Linked DNA regions of Homo sapiens. The protein of the gene in region 5 purifies or fractionates together with the protein of the main gene of each other region. This does not show direct contact. Each region holds a gene or a part of one and is shown on either strand. Other genes may lie near its edges. The genes, in order: CEP95, SHTN1, TOM1L1, TULP3, CAV3, TBC1D2B and REEP1.

The links.
Region 1: the proteins of CAV3 (region 5) and CEP95 purify together in Homo sapiens (affinity purification with mass spectrometry; 2 studies listed by BioGRID and IntAct, with this or other methods). This does not show direct contact.
Region 2: the proteins of CAV3 (region 5) and SHTN1 purify together in Homo sapiens (affinity purification with mass spectrometry; 2 studies listed by BioGRID and IntAct, with this or other methods). This does not show direct contact.
Region 3: the proteins of CAV3 (region 5) and TOM1L1 purify together in Homo sapiens (affinity purification with mass spectrometry; 2 studies listed by BioGRID and IntAct, with this or other methods). This does not show direct contact.
Region 4: the proteins of CAV3 (region 5) and TULP3 purify together in Homo sapiens (affinity purification with mass spectrometry; 2 studies listed by BioGRID and IntAct, with this or other methods). This does not show direct contact.
Region 6: the proteins of CAV3 (region 5) and TBC1D2B purify together in Homo sapiens (affinity purification with mass spectrometry; 2 studies listed by BioGRID and IntAct, with this or other methods). This does not show direct contact.
Region 7: the proteins of CAV3 (region 5) and REEP1 purify together in Homo sapiens (affinity purification with mass spectrometry; 2 studies listed by BioGRID and IntAct, with this or other methods). This does not show direct contact.

The regions. Positions count from the first base shown.
Region 1 is NC_000017.11:64,530,977-64,534,476, forward strand, and holds part of CEP95 (centrosomal protein of 95 kDa), read left to right. Parts: coding exon 1-42; coding exon of another isoform or gene 43-46; exon of another isoform or gene 47-913; coding exon 914-1,046; exon of another isoform or gene 1,047-1,862; coding exon 1,863-2,032; intron 2,033-2,140; coding exon 2,141-2,215; intron 2,216-3,500.
Region 2 is NC_000010.11:116,939,188-116,942,687, forward strand, and holds part of SHTN1 (shootin-1), read right to left. Parts: intron 1,426-3,500; coding exon 1,279-1,425; intron 1-1,278. UniProt on the Homo sapiens protein: Involved in the generation of internal asymmetric signals required for neuronal polarization and neurite outgrowth.
Region 3 is NC_000017.11:54,907,352-54,910,851, forward strand, and holds part of TOM1L1 (TOM1-like protein 1), read left to right. Parts: intron 1-3,500. UniProt on the Homo sapiens protein: Probable adapter protein involved in signaling pathways. Interacts with the SH2 and SH3 domains of various signaling proteins when it is phosphorylated. May promote FYN activation, possibly by disrupting intramolecular SH3-dependent interactions.
Region 4 is NC_000012.12:2,935,891-2,938,764, forward strand, and holds part of TULP3 (tubby-related protein 3), read left to right. Parts: intron 1-1,740; coding exon 1,741-1,839; intron 1,840-2,223; coding exon 2,224-2,395; intron 2,396-2,874. UniProt on the Homo sapiens protein: Negative regulator of the Shh signaling transduction pathway: recruited to primary cilia via association with the IFT complex A (IFT-A) and is required for recruitment of G protein-coupled receptor GPR161 to cilia, a promoter of PKA-dependent basal repression machinery in Shh signaling.
Region 5 is NC_000003.12:8,732,401-8,736,601, reverse strand, and holds the start of CAV3 (caveolin-3), read right to left. Parts: upstream 2,801-4,201; 5' UTR 2,726-2,800; coding exon 2,612-2,725; intron 1-2,611. UniProt on the Homo sapiens protein: May act as a scaffolding protein within caveolar membranes. Interacts directly with G-protein alpha subunits and can functionally regulate their activity. May also regulate voltage-gated potassium channels.
Region 6 is NC_000015.10:78,067,712-78,071,211, reverse strand, and holds part of TBC1D2B (TBC1 domain family member 2B), read left to right. Parts: intron 1-3,500. UniProt on the Homo sapiens protein: GTPase-activating protein that plays a role in the early steps of endocytosis.
Region 7 is NC_000002.12:86,250,627-86,254,126, reverse strand, and holds part of REEP1 (receptor expression-enhancing protein 1), read left to right. Parts: intron 1-2,056; coding exon 2,057-2,170; intron 2,171-3,500.

The DNA.
Region 1 (3,500 bases), on a different chromosome or scaffold from region 5:
AATATTGGACCTCTAAGAATACATGAGAAGGAGGAGGAAACAGTGGGTAAAAGTCTCCACTGTAATAAATGCCATTTGATCAGATGAGTGGGAAGTACAAAGATGATCTTTTTAAAAGAAGAAGGGGCCAACAGGGCCTTAATCATGAGCTCTTTAGGAAAAGGCAGGATTTCATGTCATGATACAGGACTTGCTTATTAATAAGGCATTCAGGTTGCTAAAATATGACGAGACATGGTTCCAAAGAAAAGTAGTGTTTTTCCGCTACTTAAAACTTCCCATCAGTTTTTAAGGGTTTATTTGACTTAGCAGTTCACCAGGGGCTTAAAAACTACTCTAGGCTGACAAAATTAAAGAAGAGTAAGAGAAGACAGAACATCCTAGTTGGCTATAGACCTGGTTGTAAGAAACCCAAAACAGAAGTTTTCATTGCCTTTCAAAAGAATGGTTACAGAAACTAAGTGAAATCATGGGGAAAATGCTTATGCTAAAATATTCATGAACAAAACAGGATATAAAGTACAGTATGGTTACAACTAAGCATACTGCATAGTTGCCTGAGAATTTTTTAAATCTACATGGAAAAAGAGAAGTACATTGAAACATTAATGGTTAAAAAAAAGATTAATAGTGGTTGTATTTAGGGTGTGGGACTATGGTGACTGAAACTTGAAAAAGATTCAGTGCTTTTTCAAATTCCAAGGGATGCCAGAGGCCAAAAGGTGCATTTAACTTAGAGTAAATGAATATTAACCAGATTTTACAAATTTGAAGTAAGGTGGTTTGGCTTACTGTTAGCTAAAAAACTAAAAAACTACCGTTAGCTGTTTTTGTCAGTATGTAATATTTAAGATGATGTATGAAAGAACTGTTAGACCTTTTATTTTTATTCTGTTTTATATCTGCTTCTAAGGAAAAAATATACAGAGGAGAAGCTGTTCGTAAAGGAACTCCAGAATGTAGTCAGCCCTGGAAGATTTACTCTAGAAAAACCACAACGCAGAGTCTAAGAGGTGGCCTCCCAAAGCCAAATAAAGCAGTTCCAAGTAAGAACCACAGAATTGTACTTTATGGAAAACTGGCAACCTTTGAAAGCATGTGCAACATTCCAAGGACACAGCACTGAAAGCTAACATCCACCAGTTAGCCGAAGAAAGTTTTTTTTTTTTCCCAATCACTGCCATGTGGCTGGTTTTCCGTAGAGGGCTAAAACTCTTCAATAAGGAAGTACTTCAGGGAGGCCTATATATTGGCACCCAAGGAATGCCAGGACTGCCACCTGCTGCTCCAGCGTTAGCCTCACTCGTGTGCTTACTCACTTTGACTGCCTTTTTGTCTATTTCTGGGAGGTTGGTAGAATGAAAGGGATGCTCCAAGGCAAGCAGATGGCCTGTCCACCTCCTATATATTGACAGTGCCAATGAGTGTAGAGTCTTGTTACAAGAAACAAAGTCATGAGAAATGCCAGGCTTCCTGTTACACCCAAAGACTGCTGGCCCTCCTACTCTATCCTTTAGACCAGAAACTTTTTCTTCTAAGCACTTGCCTACCGGGAAGGTTGAGGAGTCTTGTTTTACCGTACGTAGAGAATCTACCCACAGGCACTGAAGCGGCTGAGCAATTAGGATGGACTTCCCAGGACCAGCATGGCATCAATCCAGAACTATTGAGCTTATTTTTATCCTTACCAGTAGTTGGCTTACTCCAATCAGAGGAGTAATGCAAATTATTATAAGTACATTTAGAATTGTTCTTTTCAGGATCAAAACCACATCACTTACATAAGCTTTGATCTACCAGGGATGTTGGATGACAGTTCTTGTCCACGTCTCAGATTAAGAACATCTTATTTTACCTTGCAGTGAAAGTAAGTGAACACAGTCTCCTGCCCCTTATGCTGGAGCAGTTTCCGTTTCTTTATGTTTCTGGCCCAACACTAAGCAAAATGTGGAAACAGCAAATTGCACAGGTTGAACAGCTTAAGAAAGAAGCATGTAGAGAAAATCGATCAAAGAAGAAACTCCAAGATGAAGTAAGTTACTGTCAGTCTTAAGCATAGGAATTTAAATGAGAAGAGCTTATCCTTAAGAATTTAGTGAACAGCATTATTAACCTACTTAACTTCATGTCCCCCTTCAAGATAGAAGAAGCCCTAAGAAGGCATGACCTCCTTACTACCCTTGTCAAGAAAGAATATGAACATAACAAGAGACTGGTATGTCAAGAGCAAGTTGGGTATTATAATTCTGAATTTGTTATATTCATTCCCTTTATCTGTGCTAGCTGGGCAACAGTTGCACAGACCCTTAACCTCTTAACACCTGCATGTGGAAGTGTTGCCTAGGTCTTTAACCAAAATTGATAGCCCATGCCTGTAATCCCAGCACTTTGGGAGGCTGAGGTGAGAGGATCACTTGAGACCAGCCTCAGCAACATAGTGGGACCCTGTCATTAAAAATATATATATGGGTGTGGAAAAAATGAGCCTGGCATGGTGGCATTTGCCTGTGGTCCCAGCTACTTGGGAGGCTGAAGTGGGAGGATCACTTGAACGTGGGAGGGCGAGGCTGCAGTGAGCTATGATCTTGCCACTGCACTCCAGCCTGGGTGCCAGAGTGAGACCCTGTCTCAACAACAACAAAACACACAAACCCAAAATGGGCAGGAGGAAGAGCTAGGTACTTTATATACACAGTTTCAGTTAGTCTTCATAGTAATGTATTAGAGATGTTTTCTATGAAATGAAAACCCTGAAGCTTTGAGATACTAAGTAACTTGCCCTGGGTCTCACTGATAAGCAAGGGACACAGCTGAGATTTTAATCCAGTTCTGTCTGTGGACTCCATGGACCCATCTAGGTGCCAAGCAGCTGAACTTAGTGCTGTTTGCCCTCTCCCATCCTTCTCAGGTCCCAAGTAGAGAGCTCCAGGATTTATCAGCCTCCGTTATAATTTTGACTAGGAATTGTGCTTAGAGAATTACGAAGGGAGAGGATGGAGGTCAGAAACAATCTGCCAAAGGGAGAGATTTAAAAATCTTTGCCTGAGTGTGGAGTAGAGATAAGCCATGAGAACTGTAATACTGAACAGTTCCAGGAAGACATCTCAGGAACTGCAGATGGTACTTTCCTGTGGAGGGAAAAAACACTAGTATCTGAAACACCTACATAAGAGGCTTTATGTACATGACCCCATTTTATTTTCACTCCTTTGTCAGATACTGTCTAATTTCCTTAGTTTTTGCCTAAATGCTCCTGGCAGCTCAGGCTCTGCTTGAAAGTCTGGGTGTGCCATTTTCCTACTCCTTGTGAGGTGGCATCTGGGCCAGCCTTGTTAGCAGCTTCCTGGTGGCATGGGGAGTGAGCCCTCAGTTCCACAGGAGTGCCCAGGATCACTGCTGCCCTCTGCTGCAGTGGGGTGTTATTGGAGCTGCTCTTCAGATTGAGGTGATAAAGCTGCCAAAGGCTGAAGGGCTTCTGGGGCCACTGGCCCCCCACACGT
Region 2 (3,500 bases), on a different chromosome or scaffold from region 5:
TGGAGTTCCAGGTGCCACTGGAGTATGAAGAAACACTCCTGCAGCTAGTTTGGTGTCTGCCCAAATGGCCACCCAGTTTTGTGCTTGAATCCCAGGGCCCTGGTGGTGTAGGCACCCAAGGCAATCTCCTGGTCTGTGGGTTGCAAAGATGGTGGGAAAAGCGTAGTATCTGGGCTGGAGAGCACCATTCCTCACAGCACAGTCTCTCGTGGCTTCCCTTGGCTAGGAGAGGGAGTTCTCCAATCCCCTGCACTTCCCGGGTGAGGCAACACCCCACCTTGCTTCAGCTCACCCTTCATGGGCTGCACTCACTGTCCAACCAGTTCCAGTGAGATGAGCCGGGTACCCAATGCAGAAATCACCCGCCTTCTGCGTTGATCCCGCTCGGAGCTGCAGACCGGAGCTGTTCGTATTCGGCCATCTTACCAGCCACCATATATCAACATTTCTTATTGAGGCAAAACAAATCAACTCAACCTCACCACCAAGTTTGTAAAAACTTCAGAACTTCCAAGGATTAAATGTCAATACTGTTGCCACAGAGGCTTTGACAGGTGGTAACAAGTAGCAGCTAACAGCCTTTCCTTCCCAAATGAGGTACATTATAAGTAGTATAAACATTGATGTAATTTTTCTTAAGTGGTCTCTTTAATTTGGAAGTCTTTGTTCCACTTCTTTGCTTCTCCTCTCACCTACCACAATGACTATCCTTTCTTCTTGGCACACAGAGGTAGGCTGTGTCAGCTGGAATAGCTCCACTCATCAAATTGAAATAATCACTTAGGAAGTCTTTAAACATACACATTTGTGCAAGTTTACAAAATCAAAAATTTTCTCTAAGCAAACAATTACTACTAATACGGACTGTCATTTTCTTTGAATAAAACCTATGCCCTCCAACAAGTGCTCTGAGTTGAATACAGCCTCTTAGTGTGTGCAGTCTCCAAAAAATATAACATTTCCAAAAATTGAATTTCCAGACTTTGCCTTATCCAAGCTGTTTTTAAGTTATACCTCTTTCCCTTGCTTCTTCCGACCCTTTGGACAGTTTAAAGATTATTATAAAGTCTATAATAGCGTATTACAAATTTCAGTTTCACAACATTAAGTTCATTTAGTTATTTTTTTCTAAAAGGTGGTTGAAAGCACTTAGTAACTAAGGCAAAATATGAAACAGTAAATGACTGGACTGACTGCACTGGCTCCCTTCATCTTAAATATATGTGTGTATGCATGTATGTGTGTGTGTACCTAAGATTCCAGAAGAAAATGGGTTACCTTTTGTTGATGCTGAATTCTCTCTTCTTCAAGTTGCTGGGTGAGTTTTGCATTTTCGTCTAAAGCTTTCAAAAGCTGCTGATCAGGGATGGAGCTCTGCAGCAGAAGGTGGCTTTGTCTCTTTAGCTTGTTTTGCTCAATGAACATCTGCAAAAGTTTGTTACAAGAATGTATATATCAATCAATCTCACATACCTCCTCAACTGTAACTTCAGCAAAAGAAAAGTACATGGAATTTTTATTAAATCATTAAAGGCAAATTCTGACTTCTATAAGTTTTAGAAGTAGTGATTGCTATGATTTCATTCCTTTTATATAATCTTTAATACCTTTACTCCTGCCCCAACAAGATATTTATACAATAAGCTGGTCTTACTCTTCAGTTTTTAATATTTTATTATTGCTTTAAGATACATTAATATTAATAGTAGTAGCTAATATTTCTCAAGAATTTACCTTGTGTACTCCACTAAATATTTTATATGGATTATTTTAATCCTTACATCAATCCTATTAAAGTGCTTCTACTATGAATAGGTAACATTTACTAAACACTATGTGATAGATATGGTGGGAATCATTTTACATTCATTATATCATATAATCCTTAAAACAACACTATCAAGTAGACACTACTATCATCTAATTTTACTAATAAGGTAACTGAGGCTCAAAGAAGTTAAGCAACTTTCCCAAGAACACACGTAAGTGACAAGACCAGGACTTAAACCCATATCTGATTTACATGCCCAAGCTCTTAACCATCTGGCTAAGTTCCTCTACTATTTGCTAGATCTAATGTTTTGTTTTAAACTAATTAGTTTCTCCCTAGTGATAAAAGTAGTTAACAGTAGAAGGGTAAAGGGGAGAAGGGAGACAGTATATTTTATTGAGCACTGTATTAAGCAATTTATATGTTATTCATCAAATCCTCACAACTTTACATGATTGAAAATAATATTGATTTCTATTTACCTGTTATTTCTTTTCCTTAACACTCTACCCAATTTGGCCAGTGAGTGATTCCAAGTATGAAATGTTTTTGTAAACTCTGAAATCTGGCCTACCAATTTTATAATAGAGCTTCACCTTTTCAGATTTTTAACAGCATTTTAAAATTTACATTATAACTTAACTGAAAGCTCTGAACTGCAAAATGATTTGCTAAAGCCCTCATATTAGTTTGTTCAACAACTTCACCCATCATGTAACAGAAAAAGTCAGCAAATAAAACTCAGGACAAAAATATTTTCCATCAACCTCCATGTGGCAAGACCACAGCTTTAATGATTTATACAATCCTTAAGCTCTTGATCAGTATCGACTTCCACATCAAAGTCAAGTCATGAATACAGTATACTAAAACACTAACATTTTCTTCCCAGTATGTCTTCCTATGAAAGGGAAAAAAAGGTCAGAAGCTTTCCTTCTTTGCCTAGGGATTTATGAAAAGCCTACAAAACTACGACAGGGTTCTTCTGCAGAATTAAAACACATTACAAAGTCAAACAGGTAAATAAACAATTGCATATACATGAAACCCACATTCTTCTTCCATTTGTGTGAGAGTGAGAGGTATAGAGACTGCAGTGAGGAAGAGTATGTGCATGTACACTTGGCTGGAGAAGGGTGAGATGCAGCTTCAGCATTCTAAGAAAGAGTAATCAATATTTCATCACAGTATCTTAAACTTCAGACCAGTGATTTAATTAAAATGAATTGTTTTGGGTGACCATTATGATTACAGTAATTTTTTTTTTTTTTTGAGATGGAGTCTCGCTCTGGCACCCAGGCTGGAGTGCAGTGGCACAATCTCGGCTCACTGCAACCTCTGCCTCTCAGGTTCAAGTGATTCTCGTGCCTCAGCCTCCCAAGTAGCTGGGACTACAGGTGCCTGCCACCATGCCTGGCTAATCTGTGTATTTTTAGTAGAGATGGGGTTTCACTATGTTGGCCAGGTTGGTCTTGAACTCCTGGCCTCAATTGATCCCCCCGCCTCGGCCTCCCAAAGTGCTTGGATTACAGACGTGAGCCACCATGCCTGGTCAAAAAATTTAATTATGTTGAAGAAATTTAAAATTTTAATATAGTTATGAAGACAACTGATAGTTTTCTTGTTGAGGGGGATTAAGTTTTTGGTTTTGTTTTTTAAATGAACTAGCGGGAGTTAAGAATGGGGGGTAACTTTCAATTTTTATTTTATACATTTAGAAAATATTTGT
Region 3 (3,500 bases), on a different chromosome or scaffold from region 5:
AATTGAGACTAACAGAAACAGATTTATTTCCGAGATGAAAATGGCTATTACATAGCATAGGCAAGATTTGATCCCAGTCCTCAGATTCTAAATTCCATGCCCTTGCCTCATGCCACTTTGTTTCTAAGAACGAATCAAGCCTCTTAAAAGAGTAGGCTACTGTGTTTCCTTTATGTCTTTAGTTTCTTCCTGTGTAGTACAGGGCCAGGTATATCAGATGTTGACTGGATTAATGATTAAGCACCCCACCCTCATACACACACCTAATCCCGTCTCTCCTAGTATCCGGGAAGACTCAAGGGCTAATGGAAGGTACTGTAGAACCGGAGTAGAAAGATGTGTAGATGTACCCTCAAATATAGTATATCTGGGATATCTCAAGGGTGCCAAAGGTTAGGAGAATTGAGTAAGGAAGAGAAGGGCAGAAGATGAATTTATGCCCCCTTCTCTATTTCAGCATGGGGTATTATTATTTTGCTTTTTACAGGTGTTCACCATTCATAACAATTTGCCGCTTTCTCCATTGTGCCCAGCCTACTTGATGTTTCAGTGGTTGCTTCTTAATCCCACCTCCATATCTTCTTCCATCATGGTTCCCTCCCTGTGACGACGGACCAGGGACCCTCCTTGAGGAAGTTGGGCTATTCCAGAGTGTTGTGCCTCTGGCCCTCTGTTTCTCTTTGGGCTTCCACTCTTCCTTCTCATCAGGTAGTCTAATCTGCTCGCTGCCTTTCCCATTATCTGTTCCACCTCAGATCTGTAGCTCCCTTACCTCGTGGTTTCTGTCCAATCTAAAGCCTGTGCCTAAAAACAGGCAAGAGTCACAAGTCATAGGTCAGAATACACCTTCATCCTTGGGGTCACAGTACATTAAAGTCAGGAAAAACATCTGGCTTTTCCTTGGATTTTCTTTAAATAGGCCTTTGACTCTTCATATCTTCATGCTGATTTCCCTGAGTTGTGTATTTAATGGTCTAGTCACCTCGTCTCAGACTACTCACTGCCTTGCAGAGGTATGCTTAAGGCCTCAGAACTGACTTTAATATTCACGTAAGCCAAATTTAATTATGAGGGAAATTAGTCACAGGAGTCACCTATGTCTGTCAAAAGCAATTATAAGTTTACCAGTAAACTCTTTAAAATGTAATCCCTATATATGACATTTCCATTTTATTAATGTAAAGTGATGAGAGCCTGTCAAATTCGATTATAAATATTCTTTATGTTATCTGTCATGTTGAGTTCTCCGTGGACGTGTTAGCCTTGATTGGGCTTTGACGGAACCTGACTGTACTATGATTTCCTACCATCAGTCGGTGGAGCAGTTTTGTTTTGTGTTTCAGCAGAATTTTGTTACCAGGCTTTATTACTCTGAGCCAGAGAGTATTCTGTTCTTGAATGAGTCAATTGTGATAAATCTCAGCAAGAGGCTACTATTATTGTCAAATGGAAAGTGGTCGAACAGGTTCCTGAGAATCAATTAGTTAATAGGCCTTTGTGGAGCACCCCCTAAGCAGTGAGCTTCAGGGGTTTCATAAAATGTGTAAAATGTGGTTGAAAATAATAATGAAGAAAAAGCTTGGTTTATTCTCCTTTGGCAAATTTACCAGTGAAACAAAATATCAGGCTGGGTGCAGTGGCTCATGCCTGTAATCCCAGCACTTTGGGAGGCCGAGGAGGGTAGATCACTTCAGGTCAGGAGTTAGAGACCAGCCTGGGCAACATGGTAATACCCTGTCTCTACTGAAAATACAAAAACTAGCCAGTCATGGTGGCATGTGACTGTAATCCCAGCTACTCGGGAGGCTGAGGCAGGAAAATTGCTTGAACCCAGGAGGCGGAGGTTGCAGTGAGCCTAGATTGTGCCAGTGCACTCCAGCCTGGGTGACAAAGCGAGACTCTGTATCCAAGCAAAACAAAGCAAAACAAAACCATGTGGTTGTCCCCCCAGGAGCTTGTTGCAGTTGGAGGGAGTGAGAAGACTGAGGCCTGTCCTAGGGGTGTCATCATAGAGTGGGGTAGTCACCTTGGTGTAGGCACTATTCACGGCCCAGGTGTAGCTCTGATGGCCCTGAAACCTGGTTGTTGTCACTCTGCCTGGTTTGGAAATTTACAGTGAGAAAACTGTCAACTACCTCTTTTTCTTCCAGCCCTCTCTTAAAATACTTAGATCAGCTAATCATCACATTCACTCCTGCTAGGAAGTTCTCCATGGAAGATGATCTAAATAGTTGCCATGTATTGAGGTCCTGCTTTGTGGCAGGCTCTTTGTTATGTTTCATTTGGGCCTTACAACAAGTCTCTAGAGGGAGATATTATGTCCATTTTGCAGATAAGGACACTGAAGCTTAGGATAAGTGATTTGCCCAGCCAAGCCCAAAAGATCAGTGAAGCCTGGAGTCACCCACTTCAGTCTTTGTTCCTTGGCTCCTGAGTTTTCAATCCCACCTCAGATTATGGATTCTTATTTGTCTTATTTCGAAAGATGGGTTATCTGAACACATTTGCATCAAAGTTCAATTTCAGAATATGTGAAAACATATTTAATTTTTCCAATTTGCCACGTAGGTTTTATTACTTATCTGAGTGAGTTGGAGGGTGAAAGAGGTTCTGGTGACATAATAGAGGAGGTGATGTAGAATTAATTAGTCCTGACATTCTTGATTCTAATGGGAAAACACAAAAGGCATGACTGCTAATCTCCAGATGTTCACATTTTTAGCATTTCATGTTGACTCTTTGATTTTGTGCATGTACCTCCTGGGAGTCTTACCCATTATCATAAAATCTTGTGGCACCAAAGATAAAAATTAGTTTGTGAGGGCCAGGTGCAGTGGTTCATGCCTGTAATCCCAGCACTTTGGGAGGCCGGGGTGGATGGATCACTTGAGGCTAGGAGTTTGAGACCAGCCTGGCCAGTATGGCGAAAACCCATGTCTACTAAAAATACAAAAATTAGCTGGGCATGGTGGTGCACGCCTGTAATCTCAGCTACTTGGGAAGCCGAGGCATGAGAATCACCTGAACCGGAGAGGCAGAGGTTGCAGTGAGTCGAGATTGCGCCACTGCACTCCAGCCTAGGTGACAGAGTGAGACCCTGTCTCAAACAAACAAACAAACAAAAATTGGTTTGCGAATTATTTAGCAAGAAATACACCTAGGGAGAGTGAGACTTGGAGGCTAGGTATTTGCGTAAGACGGTACAACTAGTTAGGTGAAATATTTCTGTAAACTCACATTGAGCTAGAAGCACTTTTCCTTTTAGGATTTCGCCCGTTAAAAATTCATTATAATAATCCATCAAGCTAAATGGCATGTTATTCAACTTTCCAACTTTGTCTCACCAAACTGTACAGATTCATCTTAATATGTTTTGGATTTTGTTTTTATTTTTCTTTGCCTTAAAGGTTTTCCCTGTGTTTCACACAGCTGCATGTTTCTATATTTTCTGATTATTTCTTGGTCACAGTGCCTTAAAACTATAGCGTTTTAAGTATAAC
Region 4 (2,874 bases), on a different chromosome or scaffold from region 5:
CTTAGGAGGGTCGAGGCTGCAGTGAGCCGTGATCACACCATGCACTCTAGCCTGGGCGACAGCATGAGACCCTGTTTAAAAAATAATAATAATCGGCCAGGCGTGGTGGCTCACGCCTGTAATCCCAGCACTTTGGGAGGCCGAGGCCGGTGGATCACCTGAAGTCAGGAGGTGGAGACCAGCCTGGCCAACATGGCAAAAACCCGTCTCTACTAAAAATACAAAAAAAATTAGCCAGGCGTGGTGGCAGGCACCTGTAATCCCAGCTACTCGGGAGGCTGAGGCAGGAGAATCGCTTGAACCCAGGAGGCAGAGGTTGCAATGAGCCAAGATTGTGCCACTGCACTCCAGCCTGGGTGACAGAGCAAGACGCCATCTCAAAATAAAATAAGAATAATCTGCTTGGCTTGACAGGCATTTTTAATACCTAGTGCAGGCCTTATTTAACCACAACTAATTTTCACTGTATGTAATATAGTGCTATGCCCTCACTGGGAAATAAATATGTGTTGGTGCTGACAAAGTTGAACAGTTTGTTCACAGTTATCTCAAATCACATTTAAGACTCAAGAGTAAGAGGCCGGGCGTGGTGGCTCACTCCTGTAGTCACAGCACCTTGGGAGGCCAAGATGGGCGGATCACCTGAGGTCGGGAATTCGAGACCAACATGGAGAAACCCCGTCTCGACTAAAAAAAAAAAAAAAATACAAAATTAGCCGGGTGTGGTGGCGCATGCCTATAATCCCAGCTACTCAGGCTGAGGCAGGAAAATTGCTTGAACCCGGGAGGCGGAGGTTGTGGTGAGCTGAGATTGTGCCATTATACTCCAGCCTGGGCAACAAGAGTGAAACTCTGGTCCCAAAAAAAAAATAGTTAAGAGTAAACTCTCAAGCCAAGAGATTCTGTTTTAAATGTAGGTGTTTAAAGAAGGTATAGGCCAGGTGCAGTGGCTCACGCCTGTAATCCCAGCACTTTGGGAGGCTGAGGCAGGCAGATCACGAGGTCAGGAGATCGAGACCATCCTAGCCAACTTGGTGAAACCCCGTCTCTACTAAAAATACAAAAAATAATTAGCCAGGCGTGGTGGCATGCGCCTGTAGTCCCAGGCTGAGGCACAGGAATCGCTTGAACCCAGGAGGTGGAGATTGGAGGTTGCAGTGAGCTGAGATTGTGCCACTGCACTCCAGCCTGGCGACAGAGCGTGACTCTGTCTCAAAAAAAAAAAGAGAAGTATAAAGAGATATAATATTACTTTCCTGTTTTTGATTCTGTTTACAGCAAAGTAATAAAATTATTTTTGGTACACCTGATTTTTTTTTTTTTTTTTTTTTTTTTTTTTTTCTGAGGCAGAGTCTCACTCTTGTCGCCCAGGCTGGAGTGCAACGGCGTGATCTCGGCTCACTGCAGCCTCTGCCTCCTGGGTTCAAGCAATTCTCCTGCCTCAGCCTCCCGAGTAGCTGGGATTACAGGCGCCTGCCACCACGCCTGGCTAATTTTTGTATTTTTAGTAGAGACAGGGTTTCACCATGTTGGCCAGGCTGGTCTCAAACTCCTGACCTCAGGTTATCTGCCCACCTCGGCCTCCCAAAGTGCTGGGATTATAGGCGTGATCCACTGCCCCGGCTGATACAGCTGATATTGTCAGCATCTTACATTCCCAAGAAAGTCTCATGTTATAAAAGAATGTGGTCTCTATTTTTTTCCTGTTTCCAAGTTCTGCTTTGTTTTCCTATCTTCCAGGAAACAAACGTACTTGGATTTAAAGGTCCTAGGAAAATGTCTGTGATCATTCCTGGAATGACACTGAATCATAAGCAGATCCCCTATCAGCCACAAAACGTGAGTAAGAATGTATTTAAATCAGTGAAAGACTCTAAAAGACAGTAGTACAATACACAGAGATTAATACAAAAAAAAAAAAAAAGATTGAGCTTCCAGAGCCCCACACTGGAGATAGCTCCATACACTTCTTTAGGAAAGCTGCCCCTCCAAAACCTCAGGATAAGAGCAGTTGCAGAGTCATTGCCTTGAAACCATTTTTTCTACAAAGAGAAATGCTGGATGATGTAGAATAATTTTAAAAAAAACCTGTCTTCATTGTTGGCTTTCATTCTTCGCTTCTGGTTTACCCTTTCTGAAATGGAGAAAGTATTCTCCTACTCTACCTTCTACCTCGTAGAGTTGGAGTTCTCAGTACAAAGTAATGATTTTCCCTTTGGACAGAACCATGACAGTTTGCTCTCAAGGTGGCAGAACAGAACTATGGAAAATCTGGTTGAGCTGCACAACAAGGCCCCCGTCTGGAACAGTGACACTCAGTCCTATGTCCTCAACTTCCGTGGCCGGGTCACTCAGGCGTCTGTGAAGAACTTCCAGATAGTCCACAAAAATGACCGTAAGCCTCCAGGAGGGGTTGGGTGGGAAGAGGAGGACAGATGCTCTTACAGGATGGGAATGCACATTCCCTGTACATGATAGGAAGTGACAGTCAGCAGATAATCATGGAGGAGAGACAGGATTTCTTTGGAAAGATGAAACTACAGTTTTAGAGAAAACTTGTAAATCACTGTGTTGAGGAGGGGAGAGGAGTGTGAGAGAGATGCTATAGCAAATCAGAGAAGTTGGCTGGGCACCATGGCTCACGTCTGTAATCCCAGCACTTTGGGAGGCCGAGGTGGGCAGATCGCTTGAGACCAGCCTGGGCAACATGGTGTGAAACCCCATCTCTACAAAAAATAGAAAAATTAGCTGGGCGTGGTGGCAGGCACTTGTAGTCCCAGCTACCCGGGAGGCTGAGGTGGGAGCATCACTTGAGCCAGGAGGTCGAGGCTGCAGTGAGCTGAGATTGCATCACTGCTCTCCAGCCTGGGTGAC
Region 5 (4,201 bases):
ATCCAAGGGCTCCCTCTGTACTTACCAGCCATTGTGGGTGCCCTTTAGAAACCATGTTCTCCCGTGGGATCCTCTTTCCCATCTCCCTGCAGCCCACCTGGGTGTACCAGATGGCTACCTGGGCATGACGCAGGCTCCTGGCTTAGCTCTCTTGCCCTCTAGACTGCAAGCTCTTTGAGACCCTTCTTTGACTCACACTGTCTCATCCTTGCTGGGTGCCAGGGACTGTGATAGACACTTTCAAACCCTTCATCTCATTCAATCCTCATGCTATATTTCTAACGCACAGTGCTGCTTTGAGATTCGTTTACCTGGTGGAGGTAAATTGGGAAATGATATTATTCCCACTTTACAGGGGAAACTGAGTCTCAGAAAACCTAGTTGGTTTGTCCAGTGTTATCATTTTTAGGTAAAATGGACTGGATTTGAAATCAAGTCTATTAAAGTCAAGTCCAGGACTATTCCTGCTAGATGACACTGATGGAAACCATAACTAATAATATTTTACAGGTACAATTTTATTTACATGTATATAGTGCTTTACAGTTTGTGAAATTTGTTTCCTAATTTTCCTCATTTCAGCTTTCACACTGTGCTATACTGTATACTCTATCTCCATCACTAACGATGTATAGAAATATAATATCCAGTATAAGAAGAGCTGTGGTGGAGGAATGCCCTGAGTGAAGCAGGGGGACAGAAGTGGGAGCAACTAATTGCCTGGAGGAGTCAGGGAAGGCTTTCTGGAGGAGGTTGCATTTGAGTTGGGCCTTGAAGGCTGAGTGAGGCATTCACCACCTGGAGAAGAGAGGACAGGCACTTCTGGCAATGGCACAGGAATGTACTCTGGTGGGTGGGCTGGCAGGTGGGAGCCAACCAGGCAGAAGAAGCAGGTTGGGGCCAGATTGTGTTGGGTTTGGACAGCCACGTGGAGAGGCTAGGCTTCTCCAGCATGGGAGGTGCCCCACTGAAAGACCGCAATACAGGCCTGTCTGATCCAGTGGCCAGGAGCTTTGAGCGCTTGAAATGTGGCTAGTGAAACTGAAGAATTCTAGATTTTGTTTAACTTTAATTAAAATGTAAACCCCGATTTCATTATTGAAAAATTTTTGCAGAATGTTTGAAACAGTACAGGCATGCGAATCGATTTTCACATGTACATTTTATGAAATCTAAATGCAGAACAAGCATTTCGGATGAAAATGTGGGGTCTGAACTGAAATATACTGTGGGTATAGGAAGCACACTGGATTTCAAACTTGAAGACTGTACAATAGCTCATTGATAATTGTTTTATATTGCTTACATGTTGAAATAATACTATTTTAGATATATAGGGTTAAGTAAGAAATATCAGGAACATTAATTTCACCTGTTTGCTTTCGCATTTTAAAATGTGGCTGCTAGAAAATTTTAAATTCCTTGTGGTAACAGTATCCCTATTGGACAGCACTGGCCTGAGATTCCAATGCTTTCAGTAGGATCTGAGAGGCCTCAGACACTGGCCTCTTAACAGCCCCTCCAGTGACTCAGATGCTGGTGGCTGGGGACCCTTCTTGGAGGAATTCTGCTTTAGAAAGGTACCTCTGAGCCAGTTGTGGAGTCTTGCACCTGTAATCCCAGCACTTTGGGAGGCAGGAGGATCACTTGAGCCCAAGAGTTTGATACCAGCTTGGTCAACATAATGAAACCCAGTCTCTACTAAAAATACAAAAATTAGCTGGGCATGGTGGCACTCGCCTGTGGTCCCAGCTAATCAGGAGGTGGAGGAGGGAGAATCACTTGAGCCTGGGAGGTTGAGGCTGCAGTGAGGCGTGAGTGTGCGACTGCACTCCAGCCTTGGGGACAGAGAGAGACTGTCTCAAAAAGAAAAAAGAAAGATCCCTCTGGGTACTGGCTGGAAGTTGGATTGAAGGTGTGGGCCTGGAGGCAGCAGGGCCGCTAGTGTCACCAGGAGGCGAGGGAAGAGGCCCAACTTCAGACGCTGAGAGACTCCCTGAGGGCTAGACAACCCCGAGCTTTCTCTTCGAGGGTCCCGGGTGCCGTCTGCCCTGTCCTGGCCACTAGACCTGGGGTGAGGGGGTAGCTAGGGGAGGGCTGGGCATGGCCCTCGGCCTTGGGGACAGATATTGGGCAGTGCTCTGGGGGAGTGAGTGTACCTCGAGGGGCTGCCGGCCCTGCTGGAAGCTGCCCTCTGGGGATTAACCCTGCACCCACTGGAGAGACCGCAGAAATGCCCCTTGGCACAGAAAGGAGCCCAACTTGGCCGCCCGTTCCTGTTCCTCCCAGGGTGAGAGCCAGGAGTGAGTGGCAGGAGCGTCACAGTAGTAAGGAGGGATTTTCTTTGTGACTCGCTCCTCCTGCCCTGATTAGCACTTAGGTCATGGAGATGAGGCTAATTTTTTGCTCTTGATTTTGCTAAAGATCCTTCGGTGATTTAGAAGCCTTTTTTTGGGGGTGGGGTGGGGTTGGGGGGGTGATACAGAGACAACAGAGCAACAAGTCTCTTTTCAGGGAAACTGTGTCTGCAGCAGATACCCTCCCCTGCCAAGCGCCCACGTCTCGCAAACCTGACACTCTCCGCCCGCCGAGGCAGGCCTGCAGAGCCTACCTTGACTATGTCCTCGTTAATGTTCTTGGGGTCTCGGTTCACCAGGTCAATCTCCTTGCAGTGGATATCCTTGACGATCTGGGCCTCGAGATCTGTGTGCTCTTCTGCCATCATCGCAGAGCTGGGGGGATCCACAGGAGGAGATCCGAGCTGTGTGGCCGGCTGGGGCTGAAAATACTTGGGGCAGAGAGACCAATTCAGTGTCCCCAGACTTATGTCCCTGCCAGCTAAATAGGCCCCACCCAGCATGCCGGCTGACAGCTGTCCCACATAACTTCAGCCTGCCTCTCTCTAAAGCCTCCTGTGGCAGGCCTCCAAGCTAAAATTAAGACTGGAGCTCTTCTGGAAGGCCGATCGCTCCTTAAAGGGGGCTGCCTCAGGGCACTGGGCCTCAGGAGAGGGTGCAGAGGGCCTAGCGTTTCCTATGCATCGTGTGGCTGTGGCCAACTCGGCGGTCGCTCCGGGGCCCCTGGAATTTGCCCCACTGCTGTCAGCATTTTGGCTCCTTTGGGGTGCACTGCCCGTGGAGGGAAGTGGGGTTAGTCCCTCCTCTGCCTCTGGCTGGCTGTGTGACCTTTGGCACACTTCACCTCTCTAGGCCACTCTGTCCCCATCTGTAAAATGGAGAGATGATAATAACAATCAGGGCTCTCCTACCCAGGGAATGGCTTCAGGAGCTGGAATGCGATGTAGTGGGGCTTCTCGTTGGATTGCCAGTGCCTGGCCCTGCTGCTTGGTGACCTGGAGCAGGTCCGAGCTTTGTGGGTTTCTGAGGTTTCCACCTGGAGCAGGAGTTGATGGACTGTGGTGTGGGGCCAGGCTGGGGATGAAACAGGGAGAGGAAGCTGCTGTGGGGCTGCCCCTCGTCTGCCGTCTGGAGCCTGCACTGGGATATGCCCGGTGGGGGGAACATGAAGTCCATGTTCGTGCTACCCTTCACCCTGCCCTAGTGACAGCTTCCAGGATTTTCTTGGGTCCCAGACACTCCACATGCATCAGTGGGGTGCACCTCTCTTAGATACCTGCTCGGTTTTTCTGTGCCCTCTTCTAACTCAGCCTTCCCCTGGGCTCCAGCAGCATGAAGGATGGCAACTCTGAATCCTCAGGGGTCAGGGTCTGTGCTTCCATTTACCTGTCTATTCACTCCTTCATTCAGGATTTGCTAATAGCTGGGGATAAACAGACCAACAAGGCTCTGTCCGCCTTGAAGTGCTCCCAGTCAAGGTGGGGAGACTAATTAAAACAATAAGTGATTATAATACTGTGCGGTAAGTGCCACAGATCAGAGATATTTTACAAAGAGCTGGTCTTAGAAGTCCATAGGAGTCAGTAACTTACTCTGAGGACACCGGGGAAGACTTCCTGTGGGAGGTGGCTTTGCAGATAGGTATCGAATGACAAGCAGGAGCTCAGCACCTAGAACACTTCAAGTTACAGGATTGTGGATATTGAGGAGTGGTATAGACAGGAATGTTGAAAAGTGTGGAGTGGCTGGAGCACAGGGTGTCTGGGGTTGAGGCAGGAGATACAGCTCAGCTCAGGCCTGGGTGTGCAGCATCCCAAATGTCATACTAAAGAATGTGGATTTTG
Region 6 (3,500 bases), on a different chromosome or scaffold from region 5:
AGGATCACTTGATACCAATAGTTCGAGACCAGCCTAGGCAACAAAGTGAGACCCTATCCCTACAAAAATTAAAAAAAACTAGCCAGGTGTGGCTGGATGTGGTGGCTCACGCCTGTAATCCCAGCACTTTGGGAAGCCGAGGTGGGTGGATCACTTGAGGTCAGGAGTTTGAGACCAGCCTGACCAGCATGGTGAGACCCTGTCTCTACTAAAAATACAAAATTAGCTGGGTGTGGTGGCGGATGCCTGTAATCCCAGCTGCTTGGGAGGCTGAGGCAGGAGAATTGCTTGAACCCAGGAAACAGAGGTTGCAGCAAGCTGAGGTGGCGCCATTGCACTCCAGCCTGGGCGACAAGAGCGAAACTCTGTCTCAAAACAAAAAACAAACTAGCCAGGCATGATGGCACATGTCTTTAGTCCCAGCTACTTGGGAGGCTGAGGCAGGAGGACTGCTTGATCCCAGGAGGTGGACATTGCAGTGAGCTGTGTTTGCTCCACTGTACTCCAGCCTGGGTGACAGAGGGAGACCCTGTTTCAAAAAAATAAAATAGCAAAATAAAAATGTTAAAACTGCCCTTGCCTTGTAGATTGTACAGAAATAGGCAGAGACTGGAAATGACCGCAGGCTGTAGTTCACTGACTTGTGTTCTAGGAAGGCCTCAGGAGCTTCCCACTCATTCACTCACTGTGTGTGCTTAGGCACTGGGGATATGACTGGACAAGACAAACAGTCCCTGTCCTCCTGGAGCTTTCAGTAGGTGGGGGGGACAGACGTTAATAAAATATAACAAACACCAACCAGTGCTAGGAAGTTTGAAAGGAAAGATATGCAATGCATGTATAGTTCAGGATCTTGATCTGGTTTATGGTTGGTGGAGGGCTAGGAAAGACTTTCCTGAAGAAGCGACATTTGAGCTGAGACTCAAAGGATGAGTTGGTGTTGACTGGAGCGGGGGTGGGGGTGGAGAGGAGGAAGTCAAGTGTTGTAGGGAGAGGAAATGGCATAAGCAGAGGCCCTTAGGTGGGGGTGCTGGTTGCATGTGGGACTCAAGGAGTGCCTGGTGGCAACTAGGAGTGAAGGGGACATAGCCTTTGGAAGAGGCAGGCCTTGGGCCAGGGCAGGATTTTGGTCTTCATCTTAAGAGCTAGAGTCAGTAAAGAGTTTTAAGCAGGGTTTGACAAATAGGTTTTTGTTTTCTTTCTTCTGCTCCCAGATAGATTGTTTTAGGCCATTTGTGCTGCTGTGAAAAAATACCGTAGACAGGGTAGCTTATAAACAACAGAAATTTATTTCTCATAGTTCTGGAGGCTGGGAAGCCCAAGATGAAGGCACCAGCAGATTTGGTGTCTGGTGAGGGCTCACTCTGCTTTAGAGGTGGTGCCTTCTAGTGGTGTCCTCATAGCAGAAGGGGACAGACAAGTTCCTTCTGGGGCCTCCATCTATGTATGTTTGTATATATGTATGTATGTATCTATCTATCTAAATGTATTTTTCTCCTCAAATTCCTTTTACCACTCTGGCCTCTTTCATAAGGACCCTGATCTCATTCCAGAGGGCTCTGCCCTCATGACTTAAATCACTTCCCACAAGGCTTCCCTCTTAGTACTATCATCTTGGGGACTGGGTCTCAACACGTGAATTTTGCGGGGACACACGTTTGGACTGTGGCACTGATGGTTTGGTCATGCCTAGTATTTTTATGTAACTAAGTTAGAGGATTATCGTGTTGGGTACAAAGGGTTGATGTATTTATATGTTATGTACTGGCAAACAGATTTAAAAGTAGATAAATGCAAAGCTGAACCTATCTTGAGCAGTTGCTTCTTAATTTTGTTTCTGAGTGGTGGGTGTTGTGATGGGTGAAGCTCGCTTTGGCAGGTGTGTGTGTGGCTAGGGCCGGCCCGCCCTGGTGGACTTCCTTTCCTGAAGCATTCCTAATGGCCCCCGGCATTGACTTCTCTCCTGCTGCACTTGCTTTGCTCATATGCACATTACCAGTTTCCTTCCTCTGTGGAGATGACGATTTCTTGAGAAATGGAAGGAGTATTCAGATGTACCAGCTCCCACCTCACGTCTGAGGGGGGTGGACCAGTCTCCTCGATCAGTTGCTTTTACCTTTGAGCCACTGGGGTGCAGACTTCCCACCTCCAGTCAGAACAAAATACAAACAGTAACACCCCCTTCCTCTAAAGAAAGAAAAAGACCCCCACCATTGTAGAAGTGACTGTCAGTTTGGGAGAGGGAGAGGCATTTTCATTAGCAATTTTCGGTTCTGGTATTTATGTAGTGGGATCTTAATGACATGTGATCGGGTGTTCACCCATATCCTGTCAGGCCAGCCCTCAGCTGGGTTTTGTTTGCTTTCACAGAGTGAATGCAATGTGGAAATGGTAAACTGGGTAGTGGTGACTAGTTAGTGGCTTGTAACTAGTGTTCTGTGAAGTACTTTGCCTGGAGTGCTCAGTTCAGTAAACATCTTGGCATTCAGATATGTGAGGCCATGTGAGGGGCAAGAAGCTGAGAGGATCCCTGGGGAGACTGTGGCTTTCGTGATTGTCCAGCAGGCAGTAGCTCACCAGCCAGCACAGGAGGCCCTCAGTCGGCTACAGATTCAGGATGGTTTTGCTCCTGGTCTAGTCTTTGAGTGTCTGCTGTTGTGTCCTACCAGAGCATCACCTCCTAGGATATTTTGTCAGTGTATTTCACTACTGTGCCTTTCATACTTAGAGGATCCCAGCACCTGTTAGATGCTTGTTGGCTAAATGCATGCTTTAAGCCCTCATATCCTCTGTGTGTGTGTGTGTGTGTGTGTGTGTGTGTGTGTGTGGGTGTGGTGTGTGTGCTTTCATTTCATGGTGAAACGGACGTTTGTAGTGTCCATTTACTCAGCAAATATTTTTGAGCATCTATCATATTCTAAGCACTATGCTGCTTGCTGCAAATACAGCAGTGAAAATTTTCCATTGATTTAAGAAACTGTAGTGTTAACTTTAAAAATAGCTTAGCATCTGATATAATCAAAGAATTGTAAGAGTTTTGAAAAAAACATTGAAGAGGCCCATGTTTGTCTGTAGTATTCAGCACTGAGATAAATATCACATGTCTGCAAGTTTTTTGATTCTGAGAAGTCTGGCACTTCTCCATAGTAAAGGAAGGGGAGGGGGCATCCATATGTAAAATACTAATCTGGATATGGCCCAGGGCCAGAAATCTGTGATTTGTGTAATAATTTTGGTGAACACTGCAGAATTGGAGAGTTCTGTATAACTGATTATCAAGAAAGCTCCCTGAAGAAGATGGGACAAGGGAGTTAGTAAATGTTGGTATAATTGTGTAGCTGCTCAAAGACTTAGTTCCTGTTTGATCAGCAACATGTGTTCCCTGTAAGCTGGGAATCACCATCTTCTAATGAGTTTGCATGCTTGGCCATTTTCTTAGCCTTTGCAGAGATTGCCTGGGAGAACTAGAATCCAGTGTGAGAAGTGGGGATTTGGTAGCT
Region 7 (3,500 bases), on a different chromosome or scaffold from region 5:
ATTTTAAATGTGTTTGCACACAAATCCATTTCTACTTGGTCTTCGTAATACCCATGATGATGTTCCCTTACTGCTAGATATTTAGATTATCTCTACCTTTTCCTGATATAGATAGTTCTGCAGTGAGCACTACCATTCCTGGAGTTTAGTTGCTTCCTTTAATTGTCTTAGAATTAATTCCCAAGAGCAGGATTATTAAGTCAAACGATTCCAACATTGTATCATTCGTTAACTGTATTACTTACTAAGCTGATTGTGTAGTGGGGTTTCTTAACTAAAATAGGAGCATTATAGGTGGCTTGACAGATTAATGTCTATTGTTTCTGAAAGTTGAATTCCTTGGACTAGAAAGGGGAAGGCTTTGGGAAACATATCCGTTGGATGAGCAGGCTACTGTACAAGTTTCGGAAAATCTCTTTAGGAACTCGGACCGCAGCACTTCCTGTCTCAGAAGGGTGGATTTTGAGGAACGGATCCCTGTCTTGACCTGGTTATCAAATCCCTACTCGTCTTACTTCCCTTTCCCCAAATGCTGGGCTTCCCCTGAAGCTGCCAATGTAACTTCCATTGAAGTGAAGGTGACTGACTCTTAAGAGTTGCCAAGAATCACTTCCAAAGGGGTGGTGGTGGGGGACAGGCAGGTCACAGTTAGAGGGCCTGCTGCTATGACTTCCTGGGGAAGCCTTCCACAGGGAATCCAGCAGGAGGTTGCTGACCCACTTGCACACCTCAAAGCAATGGAAATACACTAATGCACAGAACTTGACTAAGGCCAAATGTCATTGTCTTACCGAACTCTGAAATGAGCAGCTGTCATGAAAAACAGCCTTTTTTTGGGGGGTGGGGGGCGCGGAATCTTGCTCTGTTGCCCAGGCTGGAGTGCAGTGGCACGATCTCGGCTCACTGCAACCTCTGCCTCCTGGGCTCCAGCAATTCTCCTGCCTCAGCCTCCCAGGTAGCTGGGACTATAGGCACGTGCCACCATGCCTGACTCATTTTGTATTTTTAGAGGAGATGGGGTTTTACCATGTTGGCCAGGCTGGTCTCGAACTCTTGACCTCAGGTGATACGCCCACCTTGGCCTCCCAAAGTGCTGGGATTACAGGCGTGAGCCACTGCACCCGGCCGACAAACAGCCATTTTCTTAAAACAATGACAACAACAAAACACTCCCAAACAAACAAAAATAATACACCAAAGTTAATCCAAATTTGAACTAAACCAATATTGTACTTGGCTTTGGTCCCTGAAGAAGACCTCAATCCTGTTTTCCATCTCACCTTTACCTTGTTGCATGACACTGGATGACTTCTAATTTCTGATTTTATTTGAATATGTGTAAAACAATCTCCCTTATCCAGTAATACTCATTTCTTTCAGCTTTGTAATCCCTCCCATCGATATACAAATGGGGTGATATTTGATTTTAGAATTAAATAACTATAGAATAACAGAATTTTAGAACTGCAAGGGCTCAACCCTGTCAAGATAAGGAAGATGACATGGTTATCATTTATTGAAACTAGCCACTGTGTTAGATGTTTTACTGGAATTACCTCATTTAATCCTCACCATGCTCCGCAAGTTGGGTATTATCATTATCCTCGTTTTTCAGAAGACTAAAACTGTGTGTAGAGAGGCTTGCCAAGGTCTGGCAGTCAGTTGGTGGCAGGTCTGAGGCTAGAAGCTCGGTTCTGGGCACTCTCTCCACCCTGGGTGCTTTCAGTGTCTGGTGAGTGGCTGTGTGTAGAATGGCAGGCAAGGCTGTCCATATCCAGAACCTCCTGGAGCCTCCTGGAAGGTCAGAGGGCTTTAGAAACAATCTCAGGGCATCGCTGGATCCGTAAGTTGCAGTGTTTTCAGAGTTCCCTTTTCTACTCTCCTGTATCTCTGCTCTCCCCTCTGCACGCACACCTTCAAAGTGCCTACAGCTTTTCAGGCCCAGCAAGAACAAGGATTGGGCAAGCTGCCAAGCCCAATGCTCAGAGGAAAGGAAAGAAAACAGAGATGTGTTTGAACCTTCCAGCTCAGTGTGCCTCTGTTTTTCCTTTGACAGGAAATCGATGATTGTCTGGTCCAAGCAAAAGACCGAAGTTACGATGCCCTTGTGCACTTCGGGAAGCGGGGCTTGAACGTGGCCGCCACAGCGGCTGTGATGGCTGCTTCCAAGGTACTGTGCTGGAAGTACCACAACTACATGAGTCTCAGTCCCTCTAGTGTGCCCTGCTCATCACCTGTGCGACCACACAGAACAGGCTAAGGACCAATCAGTGGTTTTTCATCTTTTAGGGGTCCTTTTGAAAATCTGATGGAAAAAAATGCTGAATCTTGCCCCAGAAAATTCTCACCCCCCAACACACATGCCCACATACTTGCAATATCAAGAGGTTCCCAGAGCCCCTGAAGCTCATCTGTGCGTCCCAGGTTAAGAATTTCTAACTTATCCAACCCCACTGGAAACAAGAAAATAATAGAATTTCTAACTTACTTGGCACTTAGGCCTGGGAGAAACAGAAGAGGGCAGGGGAGAGAGGGAGAGAGTGCTTCTCTGCAGTTTCCTAGGGTGCACTGGGAGAGTCGCCTAAATGCAGTGGACAGGTGGAGAGACTACCTGAGCAAGCGGGTGGACTCACTCACGATCATGTGGCCCAGCAGATCCAGGGGAAGGAACCCAGGTCCTAGAATAAGTTGAGTGGTCCAGACATGGAGGTCAGTAATGTGCCAAGCCATAACAACTGAAGTGGAGGAGGTTTGAAATAAACACCAGTCTGTGGGATGTTGTGGTGTGAGCATTACTTCTTTCTCTATTCTCTCCAGCCCTTTTCAAAACTGTGTTTCTTCCTAGCATCTTCTCATATCACCCTCTTGTTGTCGTCAATTTGTCATTATTTACGTAGATCTGAAAAGTTAAATTGGTCAGATATTTCCTCTCATGTGAAATCAGCAGATCATCCTAGTGTTCCCCAGGGACAAGCCCTTCCCCAACAACCATGTGTGGAGTAGGGACCTACATTCGGCTGGTGGTGGAGGGAAGGCAGTTATGCTGATGATTGGAAAGACACAGTGGTTGGGAGGTGAGTTGTATTAGCATAAGGAAGTTTGTCCCTTGTGGTGATGTGAGGGTTTTGGGGAAGGAGGCGATGGGGCTTAAAAGGTTTGCAAGAAGATGATTAGTACAGATCTTGGTGCTCTATGAACATTGTGCGGATGGCAGGATGGAGGGTGCTGAGAGCCAGTTTCAAGAGACTGAGCTGGGTTTTCCTTGCCCTGAACCAAAGAGAAGCACATTAGGATCATTTCTGGAAGAGACTCAGCACACTGGGCCGGGTAGTTGCTTGAAAAGTACCTTTCAGGAAGCCAAGGAATTCTGCAGACAAAGCCTGGACAAGAGGGAAGGGGAACCAAAAATGAATGATTCCTCTTTCAGACAAGACCAGCTCCATCTATAACACAGAATTGTAGCTAGGTATCCCGCCACTCCATGTGGCAGATCTCGGGGT